Linked DNA regions of Homo sapiens: region 2 is linked to region 1. Evidence: fine-mapped expression QTL. Tissue or cell type: whole blood. Region 1 holds a variant in brackets; the other region holds the start of a gene. All regions are shown on one strand. Distances are between the middles of the regions.

Region 1 (8,147 bases):
ATGGCACTTACAAGTTGTCATAATATTTTTATACATGGTCACTTTTCTTTTATGCCATACTTTAAGCTCGTGAGAGCAGGGATTGTGCCTGTCTTATTCATTCCTATATATTCCATGCCTTGGCACAATGTCTGGAATAAAGACATTACATAGCTGTATTGGTGACAGTACTTGCCGTCGTCTTTTGTTTTGCTTTTTTGTTCTTCTAATTCTTGCTTGTAACCTTTGTATTGAGTGAATTGGGTTTGACAGGGTTGGATCAAAGCCACTTTAGTTTCATTGTCCCTCCCAACCTACTCTATGGGCTACATCTTTTCCTTCCTGAGGATATAATCTCAGGCAGGTCCCTATAGCTTGCAAGGACAGTTGTAGGCCATACAAAGTCACTTTCAATGGCAAGAACTGACTTATATTAGTAACTGAGGCATGACCAGTGAAATGATCAAAACTCCTGGGTCGGGGGCACAGGCTGTGGCAGTCTCCAGATGCAGCAGCTGCTGCACTCTTCATGGGTCCGCCCTGCCAGGCAGTAGGAGGAAAGGGCACCCTGTCTGGGGTCCTCTTTTCTCAGGTGCCCTGTTGCGGGCATTCCCAAGCTGTAGGCCTATATGAGCACATCCAGCCATTGGGGATTCATCACCCCCTCTCCTGTGTGGCAGATTTGTGTGAAACTCTGTCCTCAAAACTCATGCCTGCAGCAATGCCTGAAAGGTCCTGGCTCAGCTCCCAGTGAGGAGGAAGCAGTCCCTCCCCATCCCAGTGAGGGAAGTGCTGGGCATGTCCCAGTACCCCAGCGACCCTCCCCACACTTTTCCCATCCAGGTCTTCTACAGGCCAGAGTTGGTGTTTGTCAGTGCCAGGAAAACACTCACAGTCTCTTCCCATGTGCTCGGAGGAGTCCAGCATCTGCTGCCCACGGGGGACCAGACCAGACAAAGATCCACCCCAACCCCCAATCCTCTTGACCTTAGGTGCATGAGAAAAATGCGTGAAAGTGAGGCAGAGGGAACCCCTTGGTGACACCTGTTGCTCTTTTTCACTGAGGGCACCCATGGCTTTCTAGGAAACAGATTTGATGAACTTTTTTTAGGCTTTGTATTTTTTCTTCTTTGAAACTTTTGGCACTGCCAACCATTCATTCCCTGAAGTCCTCTTGCTTAGTTTCTGTGACTTCTATTTTTTTTTTTAATGATTTGAGACAGAGTCTCACTCTTGTTGCCCAGGCTGGAGTGCAGTGGTGTGATCCCAGCTCACTAAAACCTCCACCTCCCGGGTTCAAGCATTTCTCCTGCCTCAGCCTCCTAAGTAGCTGAGATTATAGGCGCCTGCCACCACACCCGGCTAATTTTTGTAGTTTTAGTGGAGACGGGGTTTTGCCATGTTGGCCAGGCTGGTCTCAAACTCCTCATCTCAGGTTATCCATGTTGGGATTACAGGCGTGAGCCACCATGTTCGACCTCTTTGTGCATCTTCTTTTTTTTTTTTTTTTTTTTTTGAGATGGAGTCTCGCTTTGTCACCTAGGCTGGAGTGCAGTGGCTCAATCTTGGCTCACTGCAAGTTCCACCACCCAGGATCAAGTGATTCTCCTGTCTCAGCCTCCTGAGTAGCTGGGATTACAGGCACCCACTACCATGCCTGGCTAATTTTTGCATTTTTAGTAGAGACAGGGTTTCACCATGTTGGCCAGGCTGGTCTTGAACTCCTGACCTCAGGTGATCCACCCACTTCGGCCTCCTAAAGTGCTGGGATTACAGGTGTGAGCCACCACGCCAGGACTTTGTACATCTTCTAAGCAGTCTTGTCCTTGTTTTGCCAGACTGTGTGGTAGGACACAGTGAAGAACAGAGGCTCCACCACAGACATGTGCAAAACCTGGCTTTGCCACTTACTAAGTCACTTGACCCCTCTGAGATTCAATTTCTATAAAACAGTGTTAATAGGATGATCCCCAACTATTCAAGGTATCCTTGTGGAGTTTATAAATGATGGGGGTAAAGCACATAAAATACCAACTGGGACTTATCCATCGATAAATATTAGCAATATATACTGAATTTCATGCAATCTAAGAATTCGTCAGTGTCTTAGTCTACTTTGTGAAGCTATAACAGAATACCACAGGCTGGATGATTTATAATAGACAGAAATGTATTGGCTTATGGTTCTGGAGGCTAGGAAGTCCAAAACTGAAGGTCCAGCATCTGGCAGGGGCATTCTTGCTGTATAACTCCATGGCATAAAGGCAAAGAGAGGGAGAGAGAGAGAGAGACAGAGAGAGGGAGAGAAAAATAGAGGTGTTTAACTTGTCTTTTTATTTATTTATTTATTTATTTGTTTATTTATTTATTTTGAGACAGGGTCTCACTTTGTCACCCAGGCTGGAGTGCAGTGGCACAACCATGGCTCACCGAAGCCTCAACTTCCTGGGCTCAAGTCATCCTCCTGCCTCAGCCTCCTGAGTAGCTGGGACCACAAGCATGTGCCACCATGCCCTACTAATGTTTTTAATCTGTTGTAGAGGTGGGGTTTCACCATATTGCCCAGGCTAGTCTTGAACTCTGGGGCTCAAGCAGTCCTCCCACCTTGGCCTCCCAAAGTGCTGGGATTACAGGCATGAGCCACCATGCCTGACCTAACTTGTCCTTTCATCAGAAACCCACTCCCATATTAACATTAATCTATTTATATGGGCAGAGTCTTCATGGCCTAATCACCTCTTAAAGATCCCACCTCTAAATACTATTACAAAGGAAATTAAATTCCAACATGAGTTTAGGAAGAGACAAACATTTAAACCCTAACAATCAGGTTAAAAAAAAAAGTCTTTATGCTGTAGGCCACTAAGAGAAATTTGCTACTGAAAGACCCATTTTTATTTCAGAAATGCTAAAGTATGAAGAGAGCACATTTAGAAAAAAGAAAATACAGTATCCTTGTAGCAATGGTCTGAATGTTTATATCACCATGCCCCCCAAATATATATGTTGAAATCCTACCCCCACGAGGTGATGATGGTGTTAGGAGTGGGACCTTTGAGAGGTGATTAGGTCATGAAGGCTCTGATCTCATGATTGGGATTAGTGTTTTTATAAAAGAGGTCCAGAGAGCTGCCTTGTCCTTTCTGCCATGTCCTTGCTGTCACAGCAAGAATGCACCATTTATAGCCAGGCGTAGTGATGTGCGCCTGTAGGTCCAGCTCCTCAGGAGGCTGAGGTGGGAGGATCGCTTGAACCTGGGAGGTGGAGGTTGCAGTAAGCCTTGATCATACCACTGCACCCCCGCCTGGGGGACAGAGTGAGATCCTGCCTCAAAATAAATAAGATTGTGGAAGATAAAGACTGGGCTGTGGGAGGTTATTGTGGGGACTCTGAGGTAGGAGAGGTCCTGTGCTATATATAATACTAGGATGTATGAAAGGCAAGCATCCTTTCCCCATTTCGTTCATTTCAAAAGCAAGGTGCTGAACCCTGCTGCATGCAGGGGAAGATGAAGAGACACTGTAATTAATGTGAACCATCCTCTCAGGAACAGACATTTGCAGAACTGAAGGGGAGTCAGAGCATTTCCGGATAGGAACTCATTAAAACTAAGCTTCTCTGAAATGAGAATCACTAAGTACAAAACATCCCATGCAACTGATAACTTCTGTTTTTTTAGGCAATTAAAAATATCAAGAAGAAATTAATTTCTAATACTTTTATTGATCCAATACTTTTAAGACCAAACTTTCATATAAATGAGCAAAGTTCTGGACCCACTTTTAACTTGTTCCCCCACTTTGGCCATTCCGTCAGAGCAAACCATAGCAGTGTGGGGGTCTCCTCTTTGGAACTGGAAATTGTGGTATGTAAGAACACAATTTTAGATGGAAGGGCAAATACTGCATAAGGATCAGCTGACATAAAGATCAGCTGAAGTAACCAACTGAAAAAAAAAATCACAGGGCAAAAGTGTTTCTTTTAGTAGAGAAGTGGGGACATTAGAAAAAAAAAGAAAAGGAACAAATAAGAGCAGCTGGGTTGATGAGTATAACGAATACAGCTGCTCTTACCTTTGGAGACTAAAGTGCTGACATGAATGGAGTGTGAGTGGAAAATTAGGCTGGTGATTGCAGTAGCCCCTACTGAGTATTTACTCCACAGCAATATATAATGGGGTATGATTGGCATTGCCTATTAAGAGATGCCGGACTGTAATCGGAATGTTGATACTCATCAAAATACAGTAAAACAAGGAGAGCAGTGATTACTTAAACCTGAAGTTACAAGATGGCATTGCTTT[T/C]TAAAGTTCTTTATTCTGGCCTGGCGCAGGGGCTCAAATCTGTAATCCCAGCACTTTGGGAGGCAGAGGCAGGAGGATCACTTGAGTCCAGAAGTTCGAGACTAGCTTGGGCAACATAGGGACATCTGCAAATTATTTATATCTCTACAGATAGTTAAAAAATCAGCCAGGTGTGGTGGTGTGCACCTGTGGTCACAGCTACTTGGAAGGCTGAGCCAAGAGGATCACCTATGCCCAGGAGGTTGAGACTGCAGTGAGCTGTGATCACACCACTGCACTCCAGCCTGGGAAACAGAGCGAGACCTGGTCTCAAAACAAACAAACAAACAAAAATTCCTTATTCTGTTTGATCCTTCATAAAAACAAATTAAAAAAAAACCCCGCCACCACAGGTCATGCAAAATTAAGTTGCTATATAATAGCAGAATAAGCCTGAGCTTACTGTATAAAGGCCAATATTTAGAGATGTTTTGTAAATTTCAATGAAAATCACTGCAGAGTATTATCTCTTCAGAAAGAGATTTCTTTTTGCTAACAATTATCTGTCCTTCTCCATCTCATTCCTTCGAACCAGTATTTCTGCACTGAGACAGAGTTGACTCACCATATCAACAAAGAAATGACTTCTAGGTTTCAACTAGGGCTTTCTGTTCCCAGAGAATGATTGATGATTCTGCAGTTATGGAATTTCTCTTTGAAGATGAAGCTGAACCCAGCCTCACATCTCTTTTGAATTTTTTAAAGCTTCCTACATGTATTAGGGTGTAGGTAAGCCACTGATATAGTTTCGGTATTTGTCCCCTCCAAATCTTATGTTGAAATGTGATCTCCAATGTTGAAGGTGGGGCCTACTGGGAGGTGTTTGAGTCATGGGGGTGGATCCCTTGTGAATGACTTTGTGCCCTCCCCAAAGTAATGAGTTTGTGTGAGATGTGGTTGTTATAGAGACTGGAACTTTCCTCCTCTTTCTCTTGTTCCCCTTCTAACCATGTGACACATCTACTTCCCCTTCACCTTCCACCAGGAGTAAAAGCTTCCTGAGGCCTTATGAGAAGCTGAGCAGATGATGATGCTATGTTTCTTGTACAGCCTGCAGAACCATTAGCCAATAAACCTGTTATCTTTAAAAATTACCTAGCCCCAGGGGTTCCTTTATAGCAATGCAAAACAAATGGATACAACCACCAATCATTGTAACATATTCCTGGTAGTCTTCAAGGCCTTAATTCTACAGAATTGAATTTACTTCTTAAAAACCATACTTAATTTTTCATTTACTTAGTATATACAGTATAGATATTTTCCCTTCAGACCTAAGTGACAAATAACCGGTGTCACATTGTTTGTATGTTGTCATTCCTTTGAAATGGAAAAGGACCACTATAGGTGATCCTGAGGTCACTAGTGACTTAGATGAGGTTGATTAAATTGCATTGATAATTAAATTATAGGCCAAGTGCTGTGACTCACACCTGTAATTCCAGCACTTTGGGAGGCTGAGGCAGGTGGATTGCTTGAGCGCAGGAGTTTGAGACCAGCCTGGGCAACGTGGTGAAACCCCCATCTTTATAAAAAATACAAAAATTAGCTGGGCGTAATGGTGTGCACCTGTAGTCCCAGCTACTCTGGAGGCCGATGTGAAAGGGTTGCTTGAACCCAGGAGGTGGTGGTTGCAGTGTGCTGAGATGGCGCCACTGCACTCCAGCCTGAGCGACAGAGCTAGGTAAATTATAATTGTTCTCATAAGTAACTTTACTGTGTTTTCTTTTTTTTGTTGTTGAGATGGAGTTTCGCTCTTGTTGCCCAGGCTGGAGTGCAATGGCACAATCTTGGCTCACCACAACCTCTACCTCCCGGATTCAAGCGATTCTCCTGCCTCAGTCTCCTGAGTAGCTGGGATTATAGGCATGCGCCACCAAGCCCGGCTAATTTTTTATTTTTGGTAGATACGGGGTTTCTCCATGTTGGTCAGGCTGGTCTCAAACTCCCAACCCCAGGTGATCCACCTGCCTCGGCCTCCCAAAGTGCTGGGATTACAGGCGTGAGCCACCGTGCCTGGCCGTATTTTCTTATATTTGATATAAGAAGAGAAAAGGATTAGTTCAGAAGGCAATCAGCAAGGACACAACAGAGTATGTACCTTAGTCTTCAGATTTCACTCTTTCACACATGACCCACACTTACATGTGGATGCCCCATGTACTGTCACATCCAGGCCTTCCAGCCCACTTGGAGAAATGTGAATTCTAGGACATTTTATGATATCAGTTCAAACTTCATGATAAACATTGTGTTGTAACGTTCTCATTTACCTAATGAAGTTTGATTCTTTACACTGGAAGGTTAGGCAACTCCAAGCAGCCAAAAATTCTCTAGAAGTTATATACATCAGCTAAATGGAAATATGGCCCCATAAACCATAGATATCTGACTTTAAAAAGTCATTCCTTAGAAACCATACCTACAACTCGCTTTTATAATTATTATATCACATAGGTATAAATGATTCAGCACAGACTTGGATGTTTGATTTATGAATGTTTGTGTTGGTGAAGCATGCCTGCACAGTCATCCAATGATTCAGTGTAACTTTGCTGGCTGTAATGTTGGCTTGAACATTTCTTGCAACTTTATTGGCCCATCTGCTCCAGAGTAGAGTCGTGGAACACTGTGCTTGCATTGCATGGCATGAATGCTGAACAGTGTTGTGAAACTTCAACATAAAACAGAAAAGTGGTAACAGCAGTGACAATTACTGCTGTGTTTGTCACAACCTTATGAGCTAGCAACTAACATTTAATAAACATCAGGCATAGGGCTATGCACAGTTCATGTTCATATCTTGTGGAGTAGGTGTTATTACCACAGAAAACTGTGGTACAGACATTTAATCACACAGAGCTGATCAGTGGAGGAGTCACGATTTGAACTCTGGTTAGCTAGTCTTACCACTGTGTAACTATTCATAATAACTGAAATCAATAAGGCTATTTATCACTTGAGTTGATTGAAGTTTGGATCTTCAAAATATGACTGTTTTCTTCAGTAAACTTAAATTAGGTCAAAGTTAAGTTACTAATAGTCACAAAAGAGAGTATAACATGGACCTAAGCTTCTTAAATTTTTTATTTGCTTGTTTTCAGGATACCCAAAATGTTTGATTTCAGCCTTGAACAACTACATTAATAATCTTTTGGCCGGGCGCGGTGGCTCACGCCTGTAATCCCAGCACTTTGGGAGGCCGAGGCGGGTGGATCATGAGGTCAGGAGATCGAGACCATCCTGGCTAACAAGGTGAAACCCCGTGTCTACTAAAAATACAAAAAATTAGCCGGGCGCGGTGGCGGGCGCCTGTAGTCCCAGCTACTCGGGAGGCTGAGGCAGGAGAATGGCGTGAACCCGGGAAGCAGAGCTTGCAGTGAGCCGAGATTGAGCCACTGCAGTCCGCAGTCCGGCCTGGGCGACAAAGCGAGACTCCGTCTCAAAAAAAAAAAAAAAAAAAAATAATAATAATAATAATAATCTTTTCACTAAAGATAATCTAGATTAATTGAATAAATCAGCTTGAATTAAAACTCATCAATGTGCAACATTTAGATACCTAGTACGATTTTTTTATAAAGCAAATCATGCTTAGATAAACACAGACCTGATTTGTCTTTGTAAATACTGGGTTCTCTGCTATTGGCACAATATGAAACTGAGGCGTGGAGGTGTGTTGCCTGCTGTAAATGGCTAATAGTTTTTAAAAGTGTTCAGTAACCAGATTAACAAAGCACTGTTATTATGAGTTTGTCCTTTTGCCTCTCATTTTATTCTAGGGGATTGGGCTGTGCAACCAGGGCTTTTCTAAAGCACCTAGAAG
Region 2 (8,190 bases), 51 kb after region 1:
GGTGACAGAGTGAGGCTCCATCTCAAAAAGAGTCCTTTACAAACAACAAATGAGATTCTTCAAAGATAAATTTAGCATCAAATTCTAAAAGCAGCAAAAATTAGATTATCCTTTTAGCCAGGCTTCCAAATAAAATTAAAATTTGACCTCCAGCTGGTTTAGCATGTGAGTTTAAATAGAAGAAGAAGAGGAAAAATGTAAACTACACACTCCAAAAAGTTTCAAGTTTAAGCTAGCAGTCTTGCTCCTAGCCATTTCCAGGCCTCCTAAGCCTCACACCCTGCTAGCATTGCTGCAGTTAAACTCACACCACAATTAATTAGTAGTAAGATAAGTTAGTTTAGAATATAAATAGGCTACAGAAATATATAATGCACTCGAAAGTAAAAATACCTGAGTTTATGACAGTTTGAACATTTACAGAGCTGCTCTCCATTTACAAAAATGGAAAAATGAAAAAAGAGACTTATTCAGATGCATCTTAAATAGGTTACCAGAAACTGTAATGAATTACCTAATTCTATGCTGTATGCAATGTCATAAATACAACATTTCTTTAATTAAATGTCACCGGTTGGGGCTTGGTATCTTTCTTGTTATATAGAGATGTTAACTACTTTGCACTTGTTTTAGAGGAAGATGTGACCAGTCACTACATGGACTGGATCCTTGAAAAGTAAAGACAATTCTGAATATCAAATTCCACTTCCAGTGGGGCTCAGTGGCACGTGCCTGTAGTCCCAGCCACTCAGGTGGCGAGAGGGGAGGATCACTTGAGCCCAGGAGGTCAAGTTCCAGCCAAGGCAACATAGCAAGACCCTGTCTCAAAAAAAAGAGAGACCCTTTTGTAGTTCACAAGTGTGATGATTGGGGTTTCACGCTTATATGTGAGATGTGTCTCTCCCTCAAACTTTGTTCTGACCTGAGCACCTTACCTGTCATAAAAAGAAAGAAAAAAAGGAAAGAAAAAAAAAACCCAAACCTTGAAAACTGTTTCAAGATTGTTGAAATTGTAAACGTCCCCAAAATCTGTATGGCATAAAGAACTTGCAGATTTTGAATATCTTTCCTTTTGAATATATTTCCTTTTGAATATCTTTCCTTTATACACTCCTTAAAAGAAATACTTCTCTTGTGAACCCCTAATTCTTCACCCCTCCTCCACATACTCACTTTCAGAAAGCTTCCCAAGCATCCCTAACATTTTTTGACCATTCAATTTTTCCTAACTCAAATATGAAGCCATTCATTGTATACTATGATTTGAATTATGTGGACAGATATTTACTGTAATAAAACTATGATTCCAAAATTTACAAGCAATTTTTGATTAATGTGAAGTTCCCTGGAAATTAAACTCTTACATTACTGCCAAACAGACTACTTTGTTAGCCTTTTCAGTATGTATAATCTCTTTAGATGCTAACTAAAGAGATTCCAGGCCCTTCTCTCACATAAAAATGCTTTCTATTTCCCAATTTTGGTGAGTTTTTAAAGAATAATAATAGCTACCACTTATTGCACACCTTTTGGAAGTCAAGTATTGAACTAGGCATAATACAAATTGGTTAATTTGTCAGAGTAACCCAATAAGCCCCATTTTACAGATGAGGAAACTTCAGTTCTGAGCTGCCCTAGGTCACCCAGTTAGCAAGCTGCAGAGCCCTAACTTGAACATGAATCCCTTCAGCTCCAGAATCCATGCTTTTACAGTGTATCTCCATTGCTTCTTCATTTTGGCTAGTAATACAGTATTTCTTTCTTTCTGAATTTCTTTGTCAATGTCACCATAAATCCTCTGACATTTCCTCAATGTATCTGCACAACAGGCTTAACAGTTCTGCAAAAAAAAATCAATTTCTCTATTATTCTAGCACAAGTACTGTAATTCTATAATTATGTTAACTTTGAGATTCAGCAGCAATTGTTTTAAAAGTCGAATAGCAAAACTAACCTAGTCTACAAAGTCCTATATATAGATAACATGCTTTGAAATCCTAACACCTTAATATATGGTAAGAAAAAGGAAGAACTCGCACAAACTTCACTTTTGTGTATCACTTTAACACTCACTTTTGAATTGACTTAAAAACCTCTATTTAGTATTTTTGTCTATTTAGATTTTCAAATTTTATAAATTTATATAAAGGTGAAAATCCACTGTTTAAAAAAATCACTAACATGTGAGGCAAGGTATAGGTGGTGGACTTCCCTAGAAATATAGTAAGAGAATGTAAAATAGTTTATATAAAATCAAAGTTATACTATGTGTCAGAATTTCTGATTTATATTTCATTTCATTCAAAGCACTGCAAATATACCTTGCAGGTCACAGTACCCCTAAAATATGTTTTTAAAGTCAGGAATTCTTACCATGTGGAGATGGTTTATGACAAGTTACAGAAAATTGAATATACTACATATATTAAAGTACTACTTTAAGGTCAAAGCAGAAAGTACATGCAAGTATCAAATTCAGAAAGTGAATACAAATGTTTAACATTGGGTTTTTTTTGAGACAGGGTCTTCTTGCTCTGTCCTTCAGGCTGGAGTGCAGTGGTGAAACCTTGGCTCACCGCAGCCTCCACCTCCTGGGCTCAAGTAATTATCCCACCTCAGCCGCCCAGCTGAGACCACAGGTGCGTGCTATCTATCACTCCTGGCTAATTTTTAAAAAATCATTTGTAGAGACAGGGTCTCCCTATGTTGCCTAGGCTGGTCTCGAACTCCTGGGCTCCAGTGATTCTCCTGCCTTGGCCTCCCAAAGTGTTGGGATGTTTACAGGCATAAGCCAGAGCACCAGGCCTAGCACTGTATTTACCTTCACACCATATCATCTGATACTTGCAAAAAATGGCTGTGAGGAGAACAGTACAGGTGATATTATTTCCTGATAAAGAGCAGAAAAATTGAGGCTCAGACTTGGGTCACCCAGTAGGTAGGTGGCACAGCCCAGACTTAAAGCTTGAGAATGTTAGTTTCCTTCTACCTACCCTTTAACTATACCTGCTACCTCCTTAGCAGTGGTTTCAAACATGCATGACACAATCAGGAGTAAATAATATCTGTATCTAGATCCAGAAAAGCCCATTTGATGAGAGGCGAAAATAAGGTTAAAATATTATTTAATTTTAAAATTAAAAAAAAAAACAAATATGCTCCATTAAAAAGAAAATGTATTCACCTTTTGGTCACTGGTAATATCATTCCATTAGGTTTTCTCAAGGATTCTTAACGTCGCTCATCTTTTTTTAAGCACTCCTATGTCCCAGGCACTATCCTAGACTCTGGAAATACAGACTCGTAAAAATACTCCAAAATCTCTACTCTCACTTGTTACATGCAGGAGAGAGGAGACAAAACAAGGCAGGAGCAAAATAATTTGTATATTTACTGAGACATAAAGGCTCCAGAGAAAAATTAAAAAGGGAAAAAAGCAAAGGAATGAGCGTGTGTATTGGGGAGCGAGGGGAAAAACGTAGGATGTTACTCGTTCACCTTGCAAAGTTTATCATCCACATTCAACAGCTGTTAAATAAGTCATCAAAATACTAGATACGTGGGAAGAGAATTTACACACTCCTGACATTCCCATCCTCTCCTACTTCAAGAAACAAAATTACTCGATTCCTTGGCACCGCTGTTCAGAACCTCGATTTATCCATCAGACCTTGTTTCTTTAAAGCGTCAGGGCAAAAAGTTCGTTAACTGGTAATAATATCAGTTTAAAAGACAAAAATGAAAACAATCTGGCGCGCCTCCACTGCGCCGGTGCCCGGCGGCCACCGCCCTTCAAGTCGAAAGCAGATGCCTGACTCCGGTTTCTCGCTCACCCCAATCTCGGAGCTACCGGGGGCTCCCCTGTCACTCGGGGCCTGTGGTCTCCAGGCCGGCACTCCTCAGACCCGGGGGCCGGGCCTCGGCCTTCCCCGGCCCTCGCGGGGCTGACGCTCACCGCGGCCGAGGCTGGCAGTCCCCCCAAGTCCGCCCACCCGCCCCGAGCCAGCTCGGCAGCGCAGGGGCCGCCCCCGCCCGCAGGCCCCTCGCCGGCTGCCACGTAACCCTTCGCGGGAACCAGGAACTGCGCCGCGCAGCCTGCGGGAGGGGGCGGCGGCGGGTCAGGAAGGGGGCGACGCGGCGGTCCCCACCCCCTGCGGGCCGCGATGAGGCCCACCGGGACTTTGCATCTCCGGGCCGGCCGCCGGGGAGCTGCCGCCGACGTGGGGCAGGGCAGGGAAGGCCTGCACCTCAGGGACTGGGGGTCTGCACCCACCCCGGGCCCGAGCCCCCCGCGTCCTGGGCGGAGAAGCCGGGGCTGGCATCTGGAGCCCGGGCCCGGGCTGGAGGTGGCGGGGCAGGCGGTTGGGACTCGGGGCGGGCTCACCTCAAACATGAGCCCCAGCAGGAAGACCATCGCCACACAGGAGACGATGTCCGCGTGATTCTGCAGGACGAATTCGTGGCTCAGCACTGGGGGGCTCTTGGTGCTTTTCTTGCGAATCGCCATGGTGGGGCCGCCGCCCGCGCCTGCAGGTGCTCCGCCCCGGTTCTGCTCTTCCCAGCTGCTCACCGACTCGCCGCCGCCTCCCGCTGGCTGCTCCTCACGGCCCCGCTGCAGCCGCTCGCTGGGGCTTCACTTCCCATCCCACAGCCAGTACGCAGCCGCCGGGCCGCCCGGGGGAAAAAAAAAAACACAACAGCTAGCCCGCAGCGGGGGCGAGCATGCGCACCAGGGAGACGACGCTCCCTGGTGCCGCGGCCGCCTCCGCGAGCCCACAGCGCCACCTGGGGACCGGAGGCCGCTGGCCCGCGGCCGGGCGAGCGTGCAGGAATGTGAGCGGCGCTTCCCTGCTTCGCGCCGGGCCCGGGTTTGGGAGTCGTTTGAGGCGCGAGCTTCCTGCGCCTGCTCAGCAGCCTGAGGCCGCGGCCGGGTGCCCTCCTGCCCTCCTGGCCATCCAGGGATTGGGTGTCAGTGGCCTGTTGCACATTGTCACTTCTACAAGTGACTAACACCGTCAGGATAATCTAAAACTACGAATACTACCTGACTCCACAAGGGTACGGTGTATTCTCCAGTTTTAGCATCTGCCTTAAAAATTACCTCAGAGTTAAGCACTGCTGGGGACTTATTTCTACTCTTGGTAAGTTTGGACTAACTTAAAAAAAAAAAAAGAGCTGACCCTATTCTGGTCTGCCTCTCCGTCCCCACCCCCATCCCCGTCCCCATCCCCACCCCTATCCCCCACTGGCCTCAGACTGAAGACGAAGGGATCAGTTTGGGTTTACTGGCTTCACATATATTCAAATTAACAACATGTTTTAGTAATCTAAGGGAAATAGTAAAAGAGTTAAAAAGGATCGTGGATTAAGACACGTCCTCCTCTTATCGTTTTGCCCAAACCTGGAGTCCTTTGTATTCTTTTTCCTGAAGAATTGCTCTCCTGTTTACCCATAAGCCAAATGTAGAAACCAAAGTCATGCTAGATTGAGCCCTTTCAGCGCCCTTCCACATCCAGTCATCACCAATTCGAGGCAGACCTATCACCCCGCTTCCCCACTACCGCAGTCCGAGGGTACTTGCCTCTTGCCTACAATATTACAACTCTGGTGTAACCACTTAGTGGTTTAAGAATGTGGGTTGTTAAATCAGAATTCTGCCACTTATTACTTGTACGATCAAGGACAAGTTACTTAATCTCTATGGGACCCGATTTCCTCATTTTTAAAAATGTATTCATTTATGTACTTACTGAGGGTTGACTGTGTCCTGGGCACTGGGGATACAGAACTGAAATACAAATTAAATTATTCCTAGGGACTTATCATTCTAGTGTGGGAGAGAATCTTTAAACAAGATTTCAAAAGCGAAACAGATGTTAAATTGAGTTGAGCAACCAGGAGAAAAATAAAGCAAGGGGAATAGGAAAGTGCGAGGCACTTATACTTGCCTGAAGACCTGCAGGAGGTGAGGGAGCAAGCCCTGTGGATATCATCTATAAAGTGGGGATAACTATTGCTCATTTTAGTGATTAAATGAGATGATTGAAGGAAACTGCTTAGCGGGGAGTAAGGGCTTTATAAATTTAGTCAGGGATTATTCTTTTCCTCCTTCTGGGCAATCACTAGTTTCATTTCCCTTCAGATCACCTTTCAACGTTTATACTAGAATGATGCTTCTACTGGCAGAAAGTTTTTCAGCGGGTTCCCTTTCCCTTCATGGAAAGCTAGCATGATGAAATAGCCCTTTCTGATTTGGTCCTTGCCTACCCCAACAGACTGGAGCCCTGCATCTACAGGCCATAATCTCTGTACCAGCATTATTGACTACACACACTATACAGTTGCCTCTCCATATCTGTGGGTGCCGCATACACTGTGGATTCAACCAACCTGGAGTAAAAGATATTCAAGAAAAAAACTGCATTTGTACTGAACATCTACAGACTACCCCCCCATGATTATTCCCTAAATAATATAGTACAGCCAACTATTTATTTAGCAGTTATGTTGTGTTATTATAAGTAATCTAGAAATGATTGGAGGTCTGTGGGAGGATTTAGGATATTCTTTACCAGAATATTGCATCATCTTATATAAGGCACCTGAGCATGGGTGGATTTCGGTATCCGCGGGGGCCCTGGAACCAGTCCCCTGTGAAGACTGAGGGACGACTGTACATGCCATGACATGCTCTCTTCCCATGCTCTCCCCTGCCTTTGCGTGTACTGCTGTCTCTGTCTGGAATGTTTTCTCCTGTCCTTTCATAGACACAGCAGGCTCCTGCTGTTCCTTCATGTCTCATTTACACATGACCTCTTCGAAAGCTTCACTGAATTCTGTGACCTAAGCAATTTATCTTTTATGATTCAATTGCATTTTTGAAATAGTTTTATTGCAGTATAATTTATGTCATATAGTTCAGCTATTTGAGATATTCAATTCTGTGGTTTTTAGTATGTTTGCAAAGTTGTGCAACAATCACCATAATATAACTTTAGAACATTCTTGTAATCTCTAAAAGAAACCTTATACACATTACCAGTAACTCTCCATTTCCCCTCATAGTCTTGGCAGCCCTTGGCAACAACTGACCTATTTTCTACCTCTCTATATTTGCTTATTGTGGACATTTCTTTTTGTTCTTTCTTTGTTTCTTTTCTTTCTTTTTTTGAGATGGGGTCTTGCTCTGTTGCCTAGGCTGGTGTACAGTGGCATGATCATAGCTCACTGCAACCTTGGACTCCTGGCCTCAAGAAATTCTCCCACCTCCCAAAGTGCTGGGATTACAGGTGTGAACCACCATGGCCAGCTTGGACATTACATGTAAATAGAATCATGATCTTTTGTGACTGACTTCTTTCACTGAAGATAATGTTTCCAAGGTTCATCGATGTTGTAACATGTATCAGTACTTCACTCCTTTTTATGGCCAAATAATATTCCATTGTATGGCTATAGCACATCTTATTCATCAGTTGATGAACATTTGTGTACAAGTTTTTGTTTGAACTCAATTCCTTTGGGTATATACCTAGCAGTGGAATTGCTGATCATAAGGCAACTTTATGTTTGACGTTTTGAGGAACTCTCACACTAATTTCCAAAGTGAATGCACTATTTCCCATCCTATTAGCAATGTGTAGAGGTTCCAATTTCTTCCCATCCTTGCCAATACTTTTATTTTCTGTCTTTTAATCTTATCTGTCCTAGTGGGTGTGAAGTAATATCTCATTGTGATTTTGCTTTGCATTTCCCTGAGCACTAATGATATTGACTACTAGCCTTATCAGGTGCTCAGAAGCCATCTGTATATCTTTTTTTGTAGAAATGTCTATTCAAATCCTTTATCATTTCTAAGTTGGATTAATTTTTTAAAGTTTATTGAGTTGTAAGGGTTTAAAAATATCTATTCTATATGTCCATGTTGTTCTGTAATTTATTTTAAAAAATAAAAGATAGATTCTAGATCTTAGCAGATATATGATTTGAAAATATTTTCTTTCAGTCTGTCTTTTTACTTTCTTGATGGTTTTCTTTGAAGCACAAAAGTTTTTAATTCAGCAAAGTCCAACTTACCTGTTTTCTCTTTAATCACTTGCTATTGTTGTCCTATATAAGAAATCAGTGCCTAACCCAAGATTCCAAAGATTTACTCCTGTGTTTTCTTCTAAGAGTTTTATGGTTTTAGCT

What was found. PIP is the estimated chance that this variant, and not a neighbour inherited with it, causes the effect.
Region 2: it holds the start of TRAM1, and the variant in region 1 is fine-mapped to the expression of TRAM1 in whole blood (TOPMed, PIP above 0.99).

The regions. Positions count from the first base shown.
Region 1 is chr8:70,552,368-70,560,514 of GRCh38, forward strand. No RefSeq gene overlaps it. Among named protein-coding and RNA genes, the nearest start is that of TRAM1, 52 kb to the right of the region's middle. The variant T/C (reference allele first, on the strand shown) is at 4,283.
Region 2 is chr8:70,603,693-70,611,882 of GRCh38, forward strand. It overlaps TRAM1 (translocation associated membrane protein 1), which reads right to left and starts at 4,724. Exons shown (of 11, transcript NM_014294.6): 1 at 4,385-4,724. The coding sequence starts at 4,507. It overlaps LACTB2-AS1 (LACTB2 antisense RNA 1), which reads left to right and starts at 4,885. Exons shown (of 4, transcript NR_038881.1): 1 at 4,885-5,141. It overlaps LOC124902090 (small nucleolar RNA U13), which reads left to right and starts at 840; the gene lies at 840-945. RefSeq lists silencers at 3,771-4,220, 4,241-4,420, 4,471-4,530, 4,591-4,640, 4,721-4,890.